Linked DNA regions of Homo sapiens. The protein of the gene in region 1 binds, or shares a complex with, the protein of each later gene. Each region holds a gene or a part of one and is shown in the gene's direction. Other genes may lie near its edges.

Region 1 (7,737 bases):
TCAAGTTTACGTATATTTGAAGTTTAGTTCATTGCCATATAGATAATGCTCAGATGAACTTCTTTGTATGCTTGGACTTTGACAAAAATTCTGTCAAAGTATTTAATCAGATGTCCCAGTATTAGATTACTAGTTCAAGCTCTGCCTCCTGGGTTCACGCTGTTCTCCTGCCTCATCCTCCCAAGTAGCTGGGACTACAGGTGTCCACCACCAGACTGGCTAATTTTTTGTATTTTTAGTAGAGACGGGGTTTCACCGTGTTAGCCAGGATGGTCTCGATCTCCTGATCTTGTGATCTGCCCGTCTCGGCCTCCCAAAGTGCTGGGATTACAGGCATGAGCCACTGTGCCCGGCCAAAAGATTTTTTTTTACTTTAACATAAAATAGCCTGCCACAGTTGTTTTATTTTATTGTCATTGATGGTGAGAACAGTGCTTCCCCATTTCTGTCCTAAAAGCCCTCTGGCAAGACTGGAACAAAGCTCTTGTGAAATTGGAGGGTTTTTTTGGGTTTTAATTTTGGTTTTGGTTTGTTTTTGTTTTTTTTTTTAATCTTCTGCTTCCTTTTGTTGTCTAAGTAATGCTTTGCTTGGCCTCTCATACTTTTTTTTTTTTCTCTTAAATAAAGAGACAGGGATTGTACTTTGTCTCCCAGGCCTGCAGTGCTGTGACATGATCATGCAGCCTTGAACTCTTGGGCTCAAGTGATCCTTCCACCTCAGCCTCCCAAATAGCTGGCACTGTAGGTATGTGCCACCACACCTGGGTAATTTATGTTTTTAGAGATGAGGTCTTGTGTTGGTCCAGCTGGTTTCAAACAACTGGGCTCAAGTTCTTCCATCTCAGCCCCAAGTGGCTGGGCTTACAGGCGCAAGCCAGCGTGCCCAGCTCTCCTATACATCTTTTGAAGTGGGTCAGCTGAAAGGAAAAAACCCCTAAAACTAGAATGAGGTGCTCTTCTCCAACATTCTCATTTTTCTTGAGCATTCAGTTATATGTCTCATATGCTGCTAACACTTGATATATTAGCTTCCATTCATCCCCTTTCTCCTTTCTTACTTTGTTTTTGTTTGTTTGTCTAGAGACAGAGTCTCCCTCTATCACCCAGGTTGGAGTGCAATGGCATGATCTTGGTTTACAACAACCTCCGCCTCCTGAGTTCAAGCAATTCTCCTATCTCAGCCTCCCGAGGAGCTGGGATTACAGGTGCCTGCCACCAAGCCCAGCTAATCTTTGTATTTTTAGTAGAGACGAGGTTTCGCCATGTTGGCCAGGCTGGTCTCGAACTTTTGACGTCAGGTGATCCGCCCGCCTTGGCCTCCCAAAGTGCTGGGATTACATGCATGAGCCACCGTGCCTGGCCACTTCTACTTGTCCACATTACTTATTTCTTTCTGTCCTAGGGCCACCTAGCCTCCTTTTGTGGCACTGTGTGAGGAATGTGGGTTAGATCAGCTGCTCAGAACTCCAGGGTCCCTCATTGTAGGGCTTCCTGATAGTTGTTTGACCATCAGTAAGCTCCTGACCTTTGAGCCTTCCTCATTTGTAAAACGGTTTTTATAGGTGACATCAAGGTTCTGTGAAGTAACGGAAAATGTTTGGCAGCACCAAAGCGCTTTCTAAGAGATGAATACTGCCATGTTCAAAACCCTCTTTCATAGTTTGTAGTCCTTTTTTTTTTTTTTTTTTTTGAGACAGAGTCTCGCTCTGTCGCCCAGGCTGGAGTGCAGTGGCGTGATCTCTGCTAACTGCAACCTCTGCCTCCTGGGTTCACGCCATTCTCCTGCCTCATCCTCCGGAGTAGCCGGGACTACAGGCGCCCGCCACCACGCCTGGCTAGTTTTTTGTATTTTTAGTAGAGACAGGGTTTCACCGTGTTAGCCAGGATGGTCTGGATCTCCTGACCTCGTGATCTGCCTGCCTCCCAAAGTGCTGGGATTACAGGCGTGAGCCACTGCGCCCGTCCTATAGTTTGTGCTCTTTTTTATTCAAATACAGAGTGAGCCACGATGATTGCTCTTATGCTAATAGGAACTCTAAGATACTTTCTGGCCCAAGTATAGATGGAAAAAATACAACAAATACCAGCCTAACAGAATTTTGGGATGTACCCTGAAGGTGGCAAACCAATACAGAGGGTGTTAATTCAGCCTCAGCCAAGCATGGATGCTTGGACATAGGTGTTTTTGTGGTCCTGATAGGAAAACTGGTTTTATATGGACACAGGGCCCAGTTGTGACAAACTAGGTAGAAATGTGATGACATCTTCAGGATTGGTGTCAAGTTATAGCCCTCTTACCTAACTTAGATTGATGCACCATACATAGAAAGATCCATTGGCTTGGGGAAGCAATGTCAGGTTGGCATTTTCATAGCTTATTTCTCAAAAGCCTAGTAGTGAATGTATATTACTGGTTGTATCCTAACATTTTCTCCAGAGAGTGGCTGTTAATTGCTGCATGTCTGTAAGCATGAACTGGAAGGGTCTTTTCCATCTGTGGCAGTATGTATGTTTTGGAAGCAGCTCTTTGGTTCTCTTGGAAACATTATTTCTGCCTGGGCATCTTGGAACAACCAGAATCTTGCCCATAAGAAATTTAGAGACCTTGACTTAAAACCTTGAGGCATGGTCTGTGAGTATTTTTCTTGTGCTGCAAACCTTGGACATCACTGACCCTCGCAAGATAGGGGGAGGTTCTCACTTGAGGAGAGTCCCCTGGAATAAAAGTGTTTGATTGAAGAGCATATTACAGGCTACCTGCCTGCCTCAGAGCAACTCAAGAGTCCCCAAGATGGGAGAGGGTACTGTGTAGGAATATTCATTTAACAGTATGCAATAGTATAAGGCCAGACGTCGTAGCTCACACCTGTAATCCAGCACTTTGGGAGGCTGAGGCAGGAGGATCACCAGAGGTCAGGAGTTTGAGACCAGCCTGCCCAACATGGCAAAACCCAATCTCTACTAAAAATACAAAAAATTAGCTGGGCGTGGTGGCAGGCACTTGTAATCCCAGCTACTTGGGAGGCTGAGGCAGGAGAATCACTTGAACCTGGGAGGCAGAGGTTGCAGTGAACTGAGACTGCGCCACTGCACTCAAGCCTGGGCGACAAGGGCGAAACTCTGTCTCAAAAAAAAAAAAAAACAGTAGGCAATAGTACAGCCTAGGGAACCATACAAGATTGTAGGTGATCATGGTACCAAGAGTAGGCCTGCTCACAATGAAAAGGCCCCTTTTGATATGAGACAGACTCAACATCTTGGAAGCATTTTATCAAGCGCCAATAGAGGCTGGATATATGACTAAACACCGTGGGGTGGAGGGGGCCGGGAGAGTGGGATTTGCCAGGGAGTAAATGAGCTCCATTATTGTGAGGGCAGACAGATTGTGATAATTGGGCATCAGTATATCTTAGTTACACATGCCAGAATGATGGTTTGCATGACAGAAGTACAGTGGGCCTTGTGGAGGTTATTTGTGATGCATCCTGGGGCAAAAGTTCGGGGGTGGAAGAGCCATCAATTTTAAGGAAGAAATCATTTAGAAACTGAAATTTGGGCTGTGAAGGTGCTAAGAGAAGAAAGATGTGTTCCAAGTATTGGAGGGAGACCTCTTGGGCCTCAAAGGGCCTCTGTACAGAGGATGTTTAACATGGAGTCTGGTGATAAGAATGGGGTAGCAGAGCTGGGTGCAGTGCTGGGCAGTGTTGAATGGGACTTGTATTCAGAGCCCAGGCATCAGTTTACCCTTCTACCACAGGAGGGTGAGGATGTACCCGGATGTGAAAGGAGTACTCTCTCACCTTACGTGATGCATTATTTCAGACATTTCTTGAGTAGTAAAGGCACAGCCAAAAGGGCTTTCCTGTCATCTCAGGCCTTGCCTAACAGCCAGCATGGTGTCTTTTCCTACCTACCAACTCAAAATACAGATTTGTTTCCATGGTTTCCACATTATAGCAGAAAATTTACTTAGTCTTGTATCTTCCTCTCTCGCCTGTATGCCTGGTAGGATGTTATTTAAAATTTGATTTCTTCCCTCCTGTCTGCTTTCTTTCCTAGTAGAATGTTATTTATAATTAAACACTTTTATAAGCTACAGAGTTATTTTTGACTTGACATTTTGAATTATGCCACTTGGTTCAGTTCTAGTATCTGTTTTGTTTTTTTGTTTTTTTCCTAATTGAGTCAAGGTCTCACTGCCTAGGCTGCAGTGCAGTGGCACAATCTCTGCTTACTGCAACCTCCGCCTCCCGGGCTCAAGCAGTCCTCCCACCTCAGTCTCCCAAGTAGCTGGGACTACAGGCGTGCACCACCACAGTCAGCTAATTTTTTTTTTTTTTTAAATGGAGTTTCGCTCTTGTTGGCCAGGCTGGAGTGCAGTGGTGCAATCTCAGCTCATTGCAACCTCCACTCATTGCAACCTCCGCCTCCTGGGTTCAAGCGATTCTCCTGCCTCAGCCTCCTGAGTAGCTGGGATTACAGGCATGCTTCACCACGCCCAGCTAATTTTGTATTTTCAGTAGAGATGGGGTTTCTCCACATTTGTCAGGCTAGTCTCGAACTTCCGACTTCAGGTGATCCGCCCGCCTTGGCCTCCCAAAGTGCTGGGATTACAGGCGTGAGCCACCGCACCCAGCCCACACTCAGCTAAGTTTTATTTTATTTATTTTTTTTTTTTTTAGAGATGGAGGCTCGCTTTGTCGCCCATGCTGGAGTGCTGGAGTGCAGTGGCACGATCTTGGCTCACTGCAACCTTTGCCTCTCGAGTTCAAGCAATTCACCTGCCTTAGCCTCTCCAGTAGCTGGGACTACAGGCGCACGCTGCCGTGCCTGGCTAATTTCTTTCGTATTTTAGTAGGGACGGGGTTTCACCATGTTGCCCAGGCTGGTCTCGAACTCCTGAGCTCAGGCAGTCAGCCCGCCTCAGCCTCCCAAAGTGCTAGGATTACAGGCATGAGCCACCGCGCCTGGCCACACTCAGCTAATTTTTAAGGTGTTTTTGTAGAGGTGGGTTCTCAGATTTTCAATTTTGAGAAATTTCAACCTAAAATAATTTAAATATACTCTCATTTGAGCTTGATGCTCATAAAAGTGAATACTCGGCCGGGTGTGGTGGCTCATGCCTGTAATCCCAGCACTTTGGGAGGCCGAGGCAGGCGGATCACGAGGTCAGGAGATCAAGACCATCCTGGCTAACATGGTGAAACCCCGTCTCTACTAAAAGTACGAAAAATTAGCCAAGCGTGGTGGCGGGCGCCTGTAGTCCCAGCTGCTCAGGAGGCTGAGGCAGGAGAATGGCATGAACCCGGGGGCAGAGCTTGCAGTGAGCCAAGATCTTGCCACTGAACTCCAGTCTGAGCAACAGAGTAAGACTCCGTCTCAACAAAAAAAAAAAAAAAAAAAAAAAAAAAAAAAAAGGCCAGGCGCGGTGGGTCACGCCTGCAATCCCAACACTTTGGGAGGCCGAGGCGGACGGATCATGAGGTCAGGAGATCCAGACCATCCTGGCTAACACAGTGAAACCCCGTCTCTACTAAAAATACAAAAAATTAGCCGGGTGTGATGGCGGGCACCTGTAGTCCCAGCTACTTGGGAGGCCAAGGCAGGAGAATGGTGTGAACCCGGGAGACGGAGCTTGCAGGGAGCAGAGATCGCGCCACTGCACTCTAGCCTGGGCGACAGAGCAAGACTACATCTCAAAAAAAAAAAAAAAAAAGAAAAAAGAAAAAATGTAAATACTCCTGTGTTTTACTGTTTTAGACCGTCTGCCATTTCAATGGTCTGCCATTTCAATGTACTATGGTAAGTGTCACTTTTTCTAAAAGTGGGTGGGGGGATTAACCTTGCACTCTTGTGGTTGTTTTTCCCATTACAGGTAGAGTTGGCTTTGTGGGACACAGCTGGGCAGGAAGATTATGATCGCCTGAGGCCCCTCTCCTACCCAGATACCGATGTTATACTGATGTGTTTTTCCATCGACAGCCCTGATAGTTTAGGTGAGTGGCCCTGCACCCTGATATTTGTCACTGCCTGTGTAGCTAGTTGGCATCTGGTTTCTGGGCATCAAGTGGCTGAAAAGCAGACATGAACTTCAGAGAAGCAATCATCGTCAGTGGCCGGAGTCCTGGAGTTTGGGATTGTAGAGCGTGGGCCTTGGGTCCCTTTCAGCCTAGGTCTCCCATGGGTACTGTATTTAAAATGTATCCACCTAGGCAGGGCACGGTGCCTGACACCTATAATCCCTGCGCTTTGGGAGGTCCAGACGGGTGGATCACCTGAGGGTCAGGAGTTCAAGACCAGCCTGGCCAACATGGTGAAACCCCGTCTTTACTAAAAGTACAAAAAAATTAGCCAGGCATGGTGGTGCACGCCTGTAGTCCCAGGTACTTGGGAGGCTGAGGCAGGAGAATCGTTTGAACCTGGTAGGTGGAGATTGCAGTGAGCCGAGATTATGGCACTGCATTCCAGACTGAGCAACAGAGCAAGACTCTATCTCAAAAATAATAATTATTATTATTATTACTAAATAATATTAAATGTTATTTAAAAATCTAACTGCCTTGTAAACTAGATGAATTCCAGATACAAAGATGAGTAAACTAAGGCTGGTGCGGCGGCTGACACCTGTAATCCTAGCACTTTGGGAGGCCGAGGCTGGCAGATCACCTGAGGTCAGGAGTTTGAGACCAGCCTAGGCAACATGGTGAACCCCTTGTCTCTACTAAAATACAAAAATTAGCTGGGTGTGGTGGCGTGCACTTGTAATCCCAGCTATTCCAGGGGCTGAGGCAGGAGAATCACTTGAGCCTGGGAAGCAGAAGTTGCAGTGAGCCAAGATCATGCCACTGTACTGCAGACTCCATCTCCCAAAAAAAAAGATGAGCAAACTAGATGAGTTCCAAATGTAAAGCCATCTCTTTTGGGGAAAGACTTTCTTTTTTTTGGTTGCCCTGTCTTAGCCTTTTTCTGAAGTGTCTTAGCTGATAGAAGCTTGAATGTGATCATTTCATTAGCCTAAACACAGCCACATAATTCAGAAGTCAGTAAGTCAGTATTCTTTTTTTTTTTTTTTTTTTTTTTTGAGAGGGAGTCTTGCTCTGTCTCCCAGGCTGGATTGCAGCAGCTTGATCTCAGCTCACTGCAAGCTCTGCCTCCTGGGTTGATGCCATTCTCCTGCCTCAGCCACCCAAGTAGCTGGGACTACAGGTGGCCACCACCACGCCCGGCTAATTTTTTGTATTTTTTAGTAGAGATGGGATTTCACCACGTTAGCCAGGATGATCTTGATCTCCTGACCTCGTGATCCGCCTGCCTCGGCCTCCCAAAGTGCTGGGATTACAGGCGTGAGCCACTGCGCCTGGCCCAGAAGTCAGTATTCTTTAGAAAAAGACTGAAGAATGCTAACCTGACATTCTGTGAAACCAGGCTTGAAAAAACTTGCTTTAGGTTTGTGCTGAAGATGATGAGGTATCTATTAATAAACTTGTGCTGCAGCCCTCCCTGTCATGACAGGGCAGCAGGTGGGTCAAGGATGTTGTCGTCATTACCACAAACAGCCTTTGAGGGTCTGCTTGTGGCCTCGGGTTGCCTGGATAGTTAGTGTTAGAGTGATTGTGTTGTTATGGTTGTCCCTACCTTAATGATGATAACTGGGGTTGCTCCAAGATATTGAGCCACTTGTTTAAGGTCATGCTGGCCCAAGGAGCTGAGCTAAGATTGAGTCCTCTGTGCAGTATG
Region 2 (7,788 bases), on another chromosome or scaffold:
CTCTAGAGACTGGCTCTGGAGGTGGAGTAAATCTCTAGTGATAGAATTTTAGACCCTAAGGAATCAGCTGAAAAGAAACAATGTTTTGTCAATGGAGCATCCCCAGTGTTTCCAAATTGCACACGTGGAAAGTGTTGAACTCTTCATAATTATTGGGCTGGCTCCACTCAAAAGGCGTATTTATAATTTCCCCAATATCTTCCTTTTGCTCATGTAAATACCAACATGAAAATATCAGCCACAATGAGTTCCATGTGCTTTCCTAAAAATACCTGAGACTAATATGGACTTCAAGAACATAGCTGCATTATGACTTTTGTAGGATCTGGGCACTTTTGCCTTCATACGCACCTTCCTCCAGAAAAATAAAAATGTAGATAAAAAGAAAAATTATATTTCACTATTGCATTGTTATAGATACAAATATATTAATATTATATGCTAAAACATTTTCTTTGACCTAAAAGTTCATTTTTCTCTTCTGATTTTAAAAGAAATTAAAATATTTTTTGGCCCCTATAAGTATTATAGACCCTAGGCACTGAGCTTGCTATACCTGACAGGTAAGTTGCCCCTTTAGGGAAGACCTCATACTGAAAACTGGCTAAAAACAACCTATTATTTTCTTCAAAGATTGCAAAATATTAATTTTTTGCATAGTTGGTGCTCAATAAATATCAGTTGATTAAAAATATTCAGAGATGTTAAGACTTCTCCTGTAACAAATCTGAATATTTCTCTCTAAATCTATTATTTCGCTCCTCAGAGTATGGTCCACAGACCAGTAGCCTCAGCCCCAACTCAAACTTATCAGAAATGAAGAATATCAGACTCCATCTGCTACTAAGTCAGAATTTGCATTTTAACAAGATCCCCAAGTGACTCATATGCAGATTACACGGAAGCCCTGCTCACCTGCAATTTAAACCTGATGGTTTAACATTGGAAATGGAAGAGCTGATTCCCCTTAACCACATATAATTGAGTGCGATCCTCACCCTCCTCCAGTGTCAATACATTCAGTTCCTTTAGTCCAGTGGTTCCCAACTTTGGTTGAACATTGGAATCACCTGGAGAGCTTTCAAAAAACGACCAATAACATGGGCCCAATTTTCTGGAGATTCCGAATGATTGATCAGGTGGGCGTTCTGGGAATCAAGATTGTTTTAAAGCTTCCCAGGTGATGCTAATGTGTAGCCAGAATGAGAACTACTGTGTGGATTTCCCCATGAGATCTGTCCCCTGGTTTTAATAATGTTGGCCTCTTTTCTCTGTGTTCTCCGACCTTCCTAGGCTGGACAACCAAGTTTATAATCCAGAAATAGTTTCTTGTCTTGGGGTCTGCCATGCCCTATTAATTATCTCAAAGCTCTGAAGTGTTCTCCTAATACAACCATACACTAAAAGATTAACTGCCACTATTTTCCACATCCTTATTATGTGTCCTGTAATCACTTTCAGTCACGTAATCCTCACAATGATAGTATATGCTGTTCTTATGCCCATTATACAGATGAGGAAATGGAGGCTTAGAAAGGTTGTATCTTCCCAAGATCATCCTATTTGTATTCCAGAGTTTGTTCACCTCCTATTAAATCTACCATTTTCTAGTATCTTGCTTTCACTTAAGAAACACTAGTAATTCCCTAACTCACGTGGCTAAACATCAGATTTACAATTATCCAATTTTTGAGAATTATTGACAAAGGAAATATAATGAAGGCCAGGAAATAATTAAATAGATAATATAATTAGCAGTGGTTATAATTCATTAAAGTTTGAAAATGGTGACATTTTTCTTCTTGCATAATGGATGTGATAGTTCAATTAAAAAACAAATACTAAATACTCCAGAAATGCCCTGTGTTGGGACTGTGAAGATTACAGGGGTAAGGAACAGGTTTTGTCCTTGAATTTCAAGTTGAAGGGAGGATAAGAGCCTACAGTTGTCCAACATGTGACAGTTAATATAATCAGGTGCTACACTGTGTAGTAAGGCCATTATGCTTTGCCAAAATTCAGAGGGTAGCAGAAACCAGGACAATGTAAGGATTTATGGAGGAGGTCTATCTGGAGTGAAGTATGTAAGGATGAATGGGGATTGAATCTCTAGAAAAGACAGAGCTGAGCTAGGACATTGGCATAATACTCACTAGGCAGTTAGAATTTCCCTAACTGAATGGCCAGCCTGGTTTCTTGCTGGCTGAATGTCCCTTGTCTGTAGAGAATATATAGTCTTTGAATTCAAAACAAATGCTGTCCCAGCCAAGCTTAGTGCCAGCAATGTCCTGAGTGACCTATATCTGGAGCAGTGAAATCAATCAGGTGCAAAGGGTTATTTACACAACTGATAGCTTCCTGCCTCAGATAGTCACGGCTTCTTTTAAGGTTGCTGAAGCAAACACTTTGCTTAATATTTGAACCTAGAGAAGTTGAAAGCCAAGTACGTATTTAAATATTGATCAAGCTCAGGGCTTGAGAGCAGGCAAGAAAACTGCAGCTAGCATTGTATGTCCTTGGGTGGTGAGAGTTTCACAATTACTAGTTTTGCTGGTTTCTTTTTAGTGGGGAAGGGGCTTGGGGGTAACTTCTTATAATATTTGTTCCTCTTTCCACATTTTTTTGTTTTTTAAAAAAAGATACATACCTGCCAGAATTAAAAAAAAAAAAAAAAGAAAAAGAGGGCTTCAGTACTAGTGATATGAAAAAGGACAATAACAACAAAGGCTTCTAACACATCACCATGTTTATTCACCAGAGTTTGGAAACCATTTTTGTCTGGCATGTTGATTCAGTTAATCTTCAGTTCAAGTGATTCTCCTGCCTCAGCCTCTCGAGTAGCTGGGATTACAGGCACGCACCAACACACCCAGCTAAATTGTGTGTTTTTGTGGAGACGGGGTTTCACCATGTTGTCCAGGCTGGTCTCGAGCTCCTGACCTCAGGTGATCCACCCGCCTCAGCCTCCCAAAGTGCTGGGATTACAGGTGTGAGCCACCACGCCCTGCTCAAAATTTTTTCTATTTTTGAAAAGAATATTATTGCTTTTATTTTTATCTTGTGTACCTTGACACTGGGCAGGATATATATATATATTTTTTTTTTCTTTTTTTTTTTTTGTGGCAGCGCCTGAGGCCAGGCCTTGAGTTCACAGCTCTGTGGGGCTGAGGGTGGAATCAGCTGGGATGACAGCCCAGGTCAGGAGTGCAATGCCAGTGTTGGGGTCCCTTTCCCAAGGCGGAATTGCAGCCTTTGCCTTGGAACAGGGCTAAGGCATTCAGACACACGATGGTCTTTCTCTTGCTAATCTCAGCCTTTCTCAGCATTCGTATCAGCAAGGTGGGCTGGGGAAGGTGGCGGCTGGAAGGGAGACAGAAAAGGCCCAGGCCCAGGAGAAGTGGTGGTGGCAGCCTGGGAGCTGGGCTCCATTCTGGCTTGGGATCTTGGTGGCCAGCTTCCTCGGGCCACACCTTTGTTATGGTTCTGTGCGTAGCCAGTCTTCAAAGGAAAAACAAAGCAGAGACTCAAGGTGATTTTATAAATTTTATTAGAAACTTTATATTTCAATACTAATTTCCTTACAAATAGTCTTAACTATAACACTTACTGCCACAGCAGTCTCAGATGGGCAATTTTACCTTTAAAGCTGCAATAATGGTCTTAAGTCTGTATATGAGAGCCTGGCTGATGAAGAGGCTTGGCTTCTGCTCTTGGGGCTGTCATCACATCTAAGAGGAAAACTGCTTTGGAGGATAAGGAAGTCCCTTCACATTGCTGTTCATTGTAAAAGTGGTTATGGTTTTCATACGTTTTTGAATTAAGACTTGCAGCCACTTGCGTGCATAAACGTGAAGGGAATCGCAGCTTGCAAAGCTCTCGGCCAGGGAACATGAGCTTCAAATAAGAGGGCAAATGCTGTTTTTAAAAATAATATTTCCTATTGTAATAGACCCGGGCCGTATTATGTCACGGGTGTGGTGGCTTTTGGCTGGGAACAGCCTGAGCCTCCCTCGGGCCTGGCACAACTCCTTTCGCGAGCGGGCAGCCCAGCGCCTCCCTCGGGAGGCGCCAAGGCGTGGGGGCGCCCGGGGCGCAACTGGCACTCCTGTGGCCCGCCAGGTCCGCGCCAGCCTCCGCGCCTCCGATCTCCGGAGGCCAACGGCCGCAGCCCCGCAGCGGGAGGGGGCTGGCGGAGACAGCGCGGTAGGGGCAGCTTCAGGTTTCCTCCTGGAGCCGGTGTCGGGCGCGGCCGGCGGGCGGGCCTCGCCATGTGATGCGGCCGCCGCGAGCCGGGCCGGGAGGTGGGCAGGCGGGGATCCAGTGGCAGCGGGGAGGCGCGGGGGGAGCGGGGGGAGCGGGGGCGGCACCCGCTGCTGGCGCAGCCAGCCGGGCCCGGGCGCGCGGCCGCGGCTCCACCCCCTAAACCTTGGCTTCAGCCCGGCCGCCGCCAGGCGTTGGCATCGCCGGGGAGAGCCTTCCGGACTCCGGGCGGCGGCTGGCTGGGGGCGCGTTCCGAGGCGCCCTCAGGCAGGGCGCGGGGGCAGAGCCTCGCCTGGGTTCTGGAGGCTGCGGGGCCATCGCTCCAGGTAAATGCTCTTTGGGACTCCATCGTCTGCGTTTCCCTGCAGCTCTGGGCGGAAAAGTTTGTCCACCTGAGTTCGCATCCGCAGGGCCACTTTCTCCAGGGTCCCCAGGGATGCGAGGGTCAGCAGAGGTGACCGGGGAACCGCTGCAGGCGCTGCGGCGCGAGGGCTGGGCGCCGCCTCCCGCTCCCTCGGGAGCGGCAACAAGTGGAGAGGGCGGCGCAGCCTCGTGCGGCGGCGGCAGCTGCGGAGCGCGGGGTCGCTCGGGCGCACTGAGAGCCGGGGGCTGGGCGGGTGAAAGCCCCGCCAGTGTCCTTCGGGAGACAGGGAAATAAACAGCACTCCTGCGGTGGAGAAGGGAGAACGTCGAGAGTTGGTGTCCGCCCTTCCCATCCATGCTTCAGCTCCGGGACTGAGGGTGCTTGGCAGGGCCAGGACCGCAGAATGCAGACGGAACGCAAGCTCAGGACACACGCACTACCACTTACTCGTGTGGAAGCATCTGCTGTGTTTCAAAAGGCATTTATGGTTACCTTGGTTGGGAAAGGTGGTCAGAATTATGTGGGACTCCTTACGCTTATTTTATGGATTTGTTTCCCCTTAAATACCCGGGGTGTATGTGGTGGTGCCCCAGCCTTCCCGTGCTTAGGTTTTCCGAATGACAGGCCGGTGTTTGGCCAAGAAAGCACCATTTGGGTCGAGGGCTGTATGGAAACTGGGTGCTCAGGCGGCCCTGGATACCCAGCTTTGGTTTCCCAGAGACCAGTTAGATTTCTAAGAAAGAATCCATCTCTATAGGCCCACAGCGTCCCCGCATTGGTTGGCTGGGTGGGCCGAGGAACAGTGGCAACATCTGTGTTTGTGCGGCTTCTCCCGCCTTGACCCCTGCCTGGGTATCCACACATCTCCTCACACCAGGAGTTATAGAGGTTCACCACGGACCACACCAATTGGGCAAAATCCAAAGAAAGTAAGATCTTTAATTTTCGTTTATAAAGAACTGATCATTTGGGGTTCCATGGGGCCCCTGGCTTTCTGAAGCGTTGTTATCTTGTGTTCCTAGGCCCTGAAGCTGTCAGGTGTAAGTGAAATCCTGTTTTCACTGCAAAAACAAATCAAGGACCTACCCTTGTTAGGTTCTGTGGCATCTACTTTGTACATGACAATCCAAGCGTAGTGATGACTTCTGGGAAACCTGGGAAGGTTTCTCTAGATCTGTCCTGGGTTTTTAGTTACACATTCCTAAAGCACATGGGTATTTGCCTAATCTTGATTAATAGCCAAAGTAACCCCTTTGGAGTATTTGCAGAAAAGAGATGAATATGGCAAAACCCTTTGGAATTTTTAATACAACATAGTATTTCAATGTAATGTTCTGATGTGGACTCTATATGTGATTATTGGGCTGATTAACTTTGATCAAATAGGAATTTGGCTAGCATCAGATCTTATAGCTAATGGTTAGGGAAACTGAGGCTCAGAGCTAGCTATAGAGTGTGTGACTCAGATGAATGTCTTGGGTAATGGGAGAATGGAGAACAGAGAATCAGTGTTTGTCCTGCTTTTGACTTTTTTTTTTTCCTTATCAAAACCACACAATCTGGCCAACTAAGAACAGGTTGTATAGCAGGCGTGTCATTAGACTTTCCTCTGAAGTACCCAACTGTCCTTTAAGCAGTTTATAAACACTTAAAGGTAAAGAAGAAAAATAGTAGTTAATAACTAAGTTTCTATGAAATGTCTCAGAAGCCTCACTTGGGTGGGTTTCATACTTTTTTTTTTTAATTATGTGAGTACTGCAGAAGAGTTTGGAATGTTTTCTTATTGTGTTCTTATAAGAAACTACACTTGTGGCTAAGACTTAAATTGGGCAGGAATTTCAGGTGAGCTCTGATACATGACCTCCTTTAGTATGCCCCGTGAGAAAAGACTATGTGTTCTAAGTAGGTATTAAAACAAATTGCAGCATATACTATTACTTCTATATTAAACATTCTGTACACCACTATATTGGTACCCAAGCTCCAACAAGTCCTGCCAGTTTATGACCAAGGACTGAATTCCAAGAAAAAAAGATTCATGATATAAATGTTGGAAAAGCCTCACCACTTGGGCATGGCTAGGATGGTACTGAACAGAGCCTAAATTACCTAGGCTGACTATAATTTTATTATGCTTTTATTTACTAATCAGATATGACAGATCTGGTTTGTGTAGGTTTTGTGTAATTGCATTTGTATTTATGTTGCTTTTAGTGAAGCAGAGTAGCTCTGGGATCCCCCCACCGGCCCCCGCCCATAACCTTAAATAAGATTTGTTATGAAGAGGTGGGTCAACCTGGGCAACTCCTACTGAGGATGTAAAAACAGTGTTACATTTGAAGTGCACCAAATTCAGGGAATTCTGCCATGCTAAAGTTGTGCTGTAAATATGCCACCCTGTCAGACTTGAGTCCACATCTCTACTTAGGCAAAGCTGGGCTTTGAGATATTTTTCTTGCTTAAGAAGTGTAGGTCAGGTCCTGTATCACAGAGCATTTTGCTCCATTTGTATGATACTCTGCCATTTTGTCCAGTCTCTGTGACCCTTAGTTCTTTTGTTATTATCATGGTATTGGAAGTTCTCGGAAGCCCAAGGCAGTGTCACTCTACTATTTTGCCATTTTGACAATCTCTATTATGGGGCTCTCTTTCTATGAACATGTTCTTCATTTACATTCATTCAACTAATATTTGTTGAAGTCTTACTATGTGCCCAGCACTGCTCTTTGCTTTGATTCTCTGATCTTTGGATTCCGTGTTGAAGGTGACACTTTTCTGGCTTTAGAGTTTTTAGGGTCTGTTGCATTTTCGGAGTAGACTTTTGCACACTCCACATTAAGACATTTGGCTGGCCAGGGTGGGGGTGGTGGCTCATGCACATAACCCCAACACTTTGAGAGGCTGAAGTGGGAGGATTGCTTGAGCCCAGGAGTTCAAGACCAGCCTGGGCAACATGGCAAAACCCTGTCTCTACAAAAAAAATACAAAAACTAGCCAGGCATGGTGGTGTGTGGTGTGTGCCTATAGTCCCAGCTACTTGAGAGGCAGAGTGGGGAGGATAGCTTGAGTTGGGGAAGTAGAGGCTGCAGTGAGCTGAGATGGTGCCACCACATTTCCAGTCTGGGTGACAGAAAAAGACTCTGTCTCAAAAAAAAAAAAAAATT
Region 3 (8,183 bases), on another chromosome or scaffold:
CTCCAAAATCTAAGTTCCCAAATGCCGGCCAGTGGCCAACCCTGTAATCAGGCCTCTCCAAGGATAGCAGTTTAGGCCTGCTATGTTAACTCTTTTCTGCACAAAACCTATAGAGTTAGGGCTTTGGATCTGAGATGAATGAAGTGTGGGTAGATTTACTGAGTCCTGTTATATGGGTTCTGCCCTACCAGGAAAACTATGCCAGTTCTCAGGGCTTTTGTGCATTAATCTCCTAGGCATTTGAGGCTATGACTAAATTCCATAGGGATTTATCATGTGGATTCCACTGTGCTTGAGATGGCAGTTTAGATTTCAGCTCTGCTGTACATATTGCAAACTAGAGCCAAAGACTTTAAAGTGTGTACTGGCCTCAGGGGGATGAGGTTAATTTTTTTTTTTCATTTTAGATACTTTCCCTTTTAGTACTCCTCCTACTTTTCTTATTTTTACTAAAAAGGTACCACTCTATGAACAAACTAATAAAACAAGGCCAGTCTTGGAAGGAAAAAAATAATAATTCTTAGTGTGACAGTCTCCAAGAGAAGCAAGAATATAAGCTTAGAACAAGGGGTTAAGAATCCAGAATTCCTGGGTTCTTTTAACTAATTTTGCTACTCACTTGCCACTTTGGAGAGCTACTCACTCACTTTGGATAGGTTACTTGTTTCTTCTTTGCCTGAGTTTAAACCTATTGTGAATGAATGAAATACCCTGTAGTATATTTCATAAATACATTATGTGGCATTTTATTAATGGAGGTCTTTAATGTAGGGCTTTTATGGAAATATGAAGTATTTATGTATTTATTGATTATTTATTTTTACCATGTTATTGAAGTCAATGGTGTTTGATTAGCTCAGTGGGTGAGCAAGCATATGGTGCTACTGGAGTCAAGGCTGGTCAGTAGGAAGCATCAGTCCATTCCATGGCCACTGGTAATCTAACGTAATGAATGGTGTCTTTTGTTGTTGTTGTTGTTGTTGTTGTTGTTTGAGACAGAGTCTTGCTCTGTCGCCCAGGCTGGAGTGCAGTGGTGTGATCTCAACTCACTGCAACCTCCGCCTTCTGTGTTCAAGTGATTCTCCTGCCTCAGCCTCCCGAGTAGCTGGGACTACAGGCGTGTGCCACCATGCCTGGCTACTTTTTGTATTTTTAGTAGAGACGGGGTTTCACCATGTTGGCCAGGCTGGTCTTGAACTCCTGACTTCATGACCCACCCGCCTCGGCCTCCCAAAGTGCTGGGATTACAGGTGTGAGCCACCGTGCCCAGCCATGAGCGGTCTTGAAAATGAAAAATGGTCTTGGCCACAGAAACCAGGTATGAGGGAGTGGTTGGAATGGTATAAAGTCATCACTGTTAGGGAAACAGTAACTTTAAATGCATGTTAACAGTGGGTCTTTAAAAATGAATGTCATTTGGTTAAAGAGTTTTGCTGGGCATTGAGATAATCTGACAGCATCTCCACTTCCTGTTTTTTTTCTTAATCTCCACTTTTTTTTTTTCTATGATGAGCGCCCCTAAAATGCTGGTAAGCTTCTTTCCAACAAAATTGCGGTCAAAGTAGGATGCTGGGGAATGCTGATTTTAGCAAAAGCTTGTAGAAAAGAGTGGCCTGGCACATGAGCTTAAAAAAAAGAAAAAAAGCTGGCTCTTGAATTTTGGCACAGTGCAACCTGTTCCATACCAGACAAATGAACAGGCTTAATCTGGTACCAATTCTTTTTCTCTCTTACTCCTCAGAAGTGAAGGGACTGCAGATCTTGTTGTTTTGGGGACACTTTCATGGAACTGTATGTAGGTTTTTTTGAATGGTGAGAAATCTGAATAATTGGTAAGGGGAAGGGAATCCCTCATTTCAGCTTTTCTTGATGTTGTTACTAATAACTATGAAAAAACTTCTGAGAGAACAATGTGAACTGAAGATGACTCAGCAGTTAAGACAATGCTAAGTTCTGAAACCACAGGTAAATGAAGGGCTAATTAATGTGTGGTATACTTGGACAAAATGAAGTACTCATTTGCACTGGATTACTGTGTAATGATAACGAACACTGTTCAAGAACGATTTATATTTCCATAAGATTTGTACTAAATTTTATAAAAGTAAAACAACTTTTTATAAACCCAGAGTCTGTCTTTATATTTATGTGGTGGTTTTGCCAAGAAGTTAAAAAAAGCCTTTTGACCTGTAGAAATGTTGACCTGTATTCATACTTACTAGTGAATATCTCTAATCTGCTGTTCATTATCCATCATTCCCCCTATTTTTTTTTATTTTGGGGGGTAACAGTTGACATACACAAAACAGTTTGCCAAAAGAGAGAGGAAGAACCTTAATGTGTTTCTTGTTCTGCCACCTGTTTGGACACTTGTCTTGAAAATGTTGATGTCAAGTGAGTTGACATCAGAGACATCATCTGAAGACAGCTGGAGGCCCTGTCTTGAGGACTGTACTACCAATGCCTAAAACAGTCTGGGATGCATAGTAGATACTTAGTAAGCATGTTGAAAGAATGGACAAGAGGATGAGAATGTGGTTTAGAATCATCCCCATTGGAAAACCTCCTCAAAGGTTTTCCCAGTGGATTGGGTCATCAATGTCATTTTTCTAAGTAAAGTACTACGGACCCTGAGGAGTGTGTTCTACCCAGACTGGCTTGACTTTCTGAAGGCATCCTATAGTTACAGCCTTTAGAACAGTTGAGCTATCGGCAGCTTTAAAGAGGCTTTCAGTTTTTTTTTTTTTTAAATCATTAATGCTTTGTAGGTGACTATAGAGATTTTCATCATTTAAAAAAATTAGTTCTGGAATGAATAACCACTGGCTTAATTCAATCTTTTGCTTACCATCTTCTGAAGCTTTCCCACAGCAAAATGCCTTCTTTGCTCACAGCTAGAACCGTGGGTCTGTTTAAGTTTGGAAAGATCTTGAAAGCAGCTTGCCAAGAGGTTTTGTATGCAAGGAAGAGAAGGTGAATTAGGAAACTTTCCCAGTTTGTTTTATTCCTGAAGCTTAAGTATTGAGGCTTCCCTCAAGTATTAAGGGAAGAGAGGAACTCCAAAATGCATGATTTGATGAGTCATTGGGTTCAATTAATTTTATACTTACACTGTAACATTATTAGGATAGGGGAAAATAAGATATTTAGTACTTTTAAGAAAGATTTATTAAGTTTGGGGATAAGGTTTGCATTTTGGTCAGTATATATATGTATATATGTGTGTATATATATGTGTATATATATGTATATATATGTGTATATATGTATATATGTGTGTATATGTGTATATGTGTGTGTGTGTGTATATATATATATATATATATATATATATATATATATATGAATGGGATTCCTTCCGGTTGCATGTAAACACTCAATTTAAGAGTCTTCAGGGTAGAATTGTCATGCTAGAATACACCAGCAGGTGGCAATGTGTCCTGGTCTCATCATTAGGGAAGTGCCTTGGCTAATCTGCTTCTATTCTTTCCAAAAATAAACATTACAAAATTAGTTGGCTGTGCCTTGAACCTAAAAAATCGAGCAATAAAGAGTCGTCTCTGGTCTCTGTTTATCTTTTCCTTTTTTTCCCCCCCGTTCTAACTAACGTCAGCGTGAGCTCATGCCTCTATTCGGGGATAATGATCCTTTCATGAACTGTTGCGGAATGACTTTTTGCAACAGCATTGTTAAGAGGTAATTGTTTCCTCTCTCCACATCCACTGTTTATTAGATTTGATTTGCTACTTGGATTCCACAAAATGGCTGAAATCCCTTGTCACCAACATAGGTTTAAGCTCAAAAGTCTGAAAATAGTTGGATAAAGGGAATAGCCACTTTGGATGTTTGCAGGCAGAACTGAAGAACTGTATTACATGTGGTACCTAAATTGCCAAAATACTGAATTATTCAATCATAAAACTAGATGGGTATCTAAAGCTCTCTACCCAGTAGGGGAAAAAACCGAAAAACCGTTTGGGAATCCTTCAGAGAGAACCGTAATGCTATTTACTGGATAAATATACTTCATTTTCTTCTCCCAGTTCTTTCCACAACACGCTTGTTAAGTCGCCATGGAAAGCACCATGCTTTATCAATTTGGCAAATAACACATTTCATTTTGCCAAGGCAGAAACAGCCTAAAAGTAATATTTATACCGAGAAACCCTGGCTGCAGTCCCCAGCTGCTCTCCCGCAGCCCTGCGCCTCCGGCTCATGCAGCGCTCTCCCCCCGGAGCCGGCAGGTGCCCAGGTGAGCGGGGCCTGCGGAGGCAGCGAGGGGCGCCGGCCGGGAACCGGCAGAACGCGTGCAGCCAGAAGACAGGAGAGATAATACATTCCCTTAAGTAATAAAAGTTTCCAGGACAAGGGGGGCTGGTAATTTTCAAAGAGCCTCCCGGCACGATGTCCTCGGGATCTGGGGGGCGCTCTCGGGCGGTCTCTGGTGAAAGTCGACTTAGTACAAACTGGACTCGAAGGGGCATGTCTCGGCACTCAGGGGCCCAGGCGCCGCGGGAGGTGGGTGGGCCTCCCGGGGCTGCACGGGTCCCACCTCCCTCTGCCCCGTAGGACTACTTTGCCGCTCTCCCAAACCGGGCTCCGGCGGAGGCGTCCGTTCAAGGGCGAGAGCGCGGCCCTGAGCGGCGGAGGGATCCCGGGTGAGGCGGCTTCCCGAAGTCAGAGGGGAGGGGGCCATAAAGTCGGCGGGGGACGGGAAGCGCGAGCTCGCGCCGGACGCGGCCAGGGCCGGGAAACCAGAACCGGAACCGGAACCCGCGCGCGCGCCCGCGGTTGCGCGGCCCCCACGGCCGCCGGCCTCCTCCGCTGTCTGCGCGCGCGCCCGCGAGGGCCTCCAGAACCCGGCGAGCCGGCCCTGCGCCGGGAGACGCCGCCGCCTCCGCCTCCCGGACCAGGGCTTCCAGGCCGGGCCGGACGGGCATCTCCCGCCCCTCGCGGGGAGCGTCGGGGAGGAGCCGCCGCCTCTGGCGATTGCGGAAGAGTCCGGGCCTCAAAGGGATGGGGAGCAGTCCGCGGCGCTGAGAGACCCGGGTCCCTGTCACCTCGGGCCGCGGGACCTCTCCGCCGGCGCCAGCGGCTCGTCCCAGCACCGGGAGCCTGGTGAGGGCGGCGAGCACAGAAGGAGCCCCGGGCCCGGGACATGGAATCGCGCGAGCCCGGCGCGGGACGGCCGGAGACGCGGCCAACGCTGCGGCCACGAGCAGCCGGCAGCCCCAGATAGAGAGCCGGGAGGGAGGGCCCCGGCCCTTGCCGCGGCGGGGAGTTCGAGGCCCCGAGACTCCGGAGGAGGAGCCGACACCCGTCCGTGAGCTGATCCCGCCCCAGCCCCGGCGGGAGTCCCGGGTCCCCTTCCCACTGCGCGCGGATTTCCCTCTCTGAGGAAGTTTATCCTTGTGCCTTCTGGAGGATTTCTCTCTAGCTCGACTCACTCTGGACTGACTCGCTCCCTGGCTTTCTCAGTTCGTTTTGGGAGATAACTTGTTTTGCTCCAAGCCGCATCCGTTGACCCCTTACAGTCGGATGGTCTAGATGACTGAATGGAGTTTTGAGTTGGACTTTTGTGTCCCTGACGGAGTTGGGCCTGATCCCAGAGCACTGGGGGTGGGGAGGAGGTGTTACTGTAAAATGCAAGTTGGATAAAAGGAGGACCTCTCGCCAAGGGCCCCAATGAGTGGCACACAGTCTACTATCACCGACAGGTTGGTATGAATTCCTCCTTCGTTCGGCCTCCCGGAATCGGGCCCGACCTAGCAGGGGAGTCGGTGATTGCAGATTGCCTTTGGCCAGCGAAGTTGACAGGCAGAGGAAAGAGGGTTGTTTCGGAGCTGTGCAGTTAGCCTGGGGTTGCTGCCGAGTTATCCAGTTGATTGGCTTTTGGAAATGTAATTTTTCCGGAGAGAAACTTCCCTTCCGATTCTCAGAGAAGGGGGAGGCAAAACCATGATTGTGGTTTTCCGCCTGTAGTGTGCATTAGGATTGTGTACTCGTCTGGAAATCAGAGGAGAAGGTCATTTTAGGTGAAGGTCGGTGCCTGAAGTCGGCTCGGTATTGGTGTATTATTTATCAGCTTTAGCCGTGTCCTGCAGTAGATTCTCAAGACAATTACATTTTAGGAATTTCTACCTGTGAACTTAATGTTGAGCCTACTGCATGGTGATCTGGGAACTTGATCTCTTTCAGATGTTGACCTGCACGGTGTTTAATTATTATCTAATAACTTTCCAGAATGTTGACATTACCAGTAAATCACAGGTTCTTGCTGGAAGCAATGTCCAGGAGCTGAAGAAATGAGGGTAAATCATGGGGTTTGCTTTTAATTCTTGTATTTAAATATTTCGTCTTCCAGAAACACTTGGCGTTTAAGAGATATAAGCCGTAAGCATAGTGTAAGCGCGCAGCTGAATTTGTTGAGTTCTGTGTCTGTCCTTTATAGCACCTACCAGTGTTGCATGGTGGTGGGTGGCGAATTGAGCTAGACCATGTGTGGTTGAAGTGCAGTTTGCTTATCCTAAGTTACTCTTGTTTATAGGGTAAGGGATAAAAAGCATATTGATTCCTTGACCACATTTCATTCTCAATTTAATTATGACACTGCATGCTAGTCCCAAATTTGTCAGCTTGCTTTATTTTTAAGTCAGTCTTCGAATTATTACACCGTGAAAAAATAGATCAAGTAACTGAATTAGAGGGCCAAAGCTCTTTGATGAAAAGTGCAACAATAGTGCTTCTGCACAAAGTAGTCTTAATTTCCTAATAAGAGTTTTACCCAATTGTAAGACTCATTTGTTGATTTTAAAAGGGCCAAATTCCATTATCATACCATAACAGCTACTCCAGAAACAGAACTTCCTCTTCCTGTTGATGCTTTCCAGCATCACATGAATGTTCACTTAAAAGAGTCTGTTAAATATTTAAAGTATTTATATTTACTCTTTGTGTATTTTTCAAAGTGGGTTTTCATTTTCAATGAAATAATTTTTAACTTTTCCAAGAATACACTTAAGATAAGTATTGACAATGCTTATCTTACTTTCTTCTGGTTATCCCCATTTTTTTCCTTTCAGGGTGTTTTGCTTCTGAGAAATCACTTTTACGGGTGTGGGGATAATTGTTTTCCTGCTTCATTCAATTCTCGCTCTTTCTGTTGAGCCTGTAAACAAAAGTCTTGCTAGGAACTAATGTAATGTTGGTTTTCATTGCGATGCTGAGGTGTTTAATTTATGGAAACAGAACGGACTCATTCCACACACAAGTGAGTGAAAAGCCCTCAAGTAATGGTTTTTCTTCAGCATTGCTTCTCAGGGATTTTCCTTGTCTTCTCGTTATCTTGGAAATAGAATCTTGGAATTTGTATCCTCTTTATAACGTAGATGGCATATAAACATTCAATAAATATGAAATTACTGAAAGCCTGTTTCTTTTCTTTTTCTTTTTTTTTTTTTTTTTTGGCCAGGCACTGTGCAGGCACAAGAGATTACAAAATGAATATTGTAAGATTAATCTGCAAATTGGTTTGGGCATTAATGTTTTTTGAACTGGTTCAGGTGCTGCTGCCTAATTTTACATTTTTTTTTTTTAAAGAAAAGACCTTGGAAAGCCAATTAATAAGCACTGCTGAGACCTGTTTCGTAGGATTTTTTTTTACTAGGGTCTTTTTTTATTAAGAATTATTCTTATTTGACCACATTTAAATATATTTTGTAAATATAAAGCATCCATTTGCTGTTAAGAGAGTAGTTGTTCCTAATATGAATATATGTTGGGGTGAAATCTGGAGGTACTGGTTTAGTATTATTTCTCTGCCAAGGTGTCTTAACAAAGTTACGAGTATATAATAGTTTCTAGCTTTCTGTCAGCCCTACCTCATCCTTTTTTCGTAGTGTCTAACTCTTACTGTAGGTATATTTTGCTGACTCTAGAACTGTTGGAAAATTAACAGCACCAGTGTAGCTTTTTAGATAGAGATCCTTTCAAGTTTGAAGTGCTGTATGTGGTATGGCTTTGTTTCGTAGAGTGTGCAGAACCACCAGGCCAGCTGTGTGAGTTAGAGTTCTTTCATTGTGGTGCTTCTGACTACAGAGTCTGTCTGTCCTCAGTTGAAATCAGACTAGCTGGTTTTGGGCGTTGTTCTGTTTTGCAGTTTGTGGCAGGCGACACATGGCTGA

Evidence for each region.
Region 2: the proteins of RHOA (region 1) and ARHGEF28 are in contact, whole or in part, in a crystal structure (PDB 6BC0), measured with the Homo sapiens proteins. Residues at the interface, in NP_001300870.1 of Homo sapiens: Arg5, Val38, Phe39, Glu40, Asn41, Tyr42, Val43, Glu54, Ala56, Trp58, Arg68, Leu69, Leu72; in NP_001171164.1 of Homo sapiens: Lys1140, Ile1142, Arg1144, Glu1145, Val1146, Ala1147, Asn1148, Glu1149, Phe1154, Ile1156, Ala1158, Ser1159, Ser1160, Pro1163, Glu1164, Met1165.
Region 3: the proteins of RHOA (region 1) and ARHGEF12 are in contact, whole or in part, in a crystal structure (PDB 1X86), measured with the Homo sapiens proteins. Residues at the interface, in NP_001300870.1 of Homo sapiens: Arg5, Lys7, Thr19, Lys27, Val33, Tyr34, Pro36, Thr37, Val38, Phe39, Glu40, Asn41, Val43, Asp45, Glu54, Trp58, Asp59, Ala61, Gly62, Gln63, Tyr66, Asp67, Arg68, Leu69, Leu72, Ser73, Asp76, Glu97; in NP_056128.1 of Homo sapiens: Pro766, Asn768, Gln770, Glu790, Val791, Glu794, Thr798, Ala801, Cys888, Gln891, Pro892, Lys899, Arg922, Arg923, Leu924, Gln925, Lys927, Asp928, Pro931, Thr932, Met934, Gln935, Thr938, Lys939, Leu942, Leu943, Asn946, Arg968, Leu971, Asn972.

What each region holds. Positions count from the first base shown.
Region 1 is NC_000003.12:49,366,687-49,374,423, reverse strand, and holds part of RHOA (transforming protein RhoA isoform 1 precursor), read left to right. Parts: intron 1-5,875; coding exon 5,876-5,996; intron 5,997-7,737. UniProt on the Homo sapiens protein: Small GTPase which cycles between an active GTP-bound and an inactive GDP-bound state.
Region 2 is NC_000005.10:73,621,737-73,629,524, forward strand, and holds the start of ARHGEF28 (rho guanine nucleotide exchange factor 28), read left to right. Parts: upstream 1-4,459; 5' UTR 4,460-4,586; intron 4,587-7,788. UniProt on the Homo sapiens protein: Functions as a RHOA-specific guanine nucleotide exchange factor regulating signaling pathways downstream of integrins and growth factor receptors. Functions in axonal branching, synapse formation and dendritic morphogenesis.
Region 3 is NC_000011.10:120,331,559-120,339,741, forward strand, and holds the start of ARHGEF12 (rho guanine nucleotide exchange factor 12), read left to right. Parts: upstream 1-4,854; 5' UTR 4,855-5,685; coding exon 5,686-5,717; exon of another isoform or gene 5,718-6,311; intron 6,312-8,183. UniProt on the Homo sapiens protein: May play a role in the regulation of RhoA GTPase by guanine nucleotide-binding alpha-12 (GNA12) and alpha-13 (GNA13). Acts as guanine nucleotide exchange factor (GEF) for RhoA GTPase and may act as GTPase-activating protein (GAP) for GNA12 and GNA13.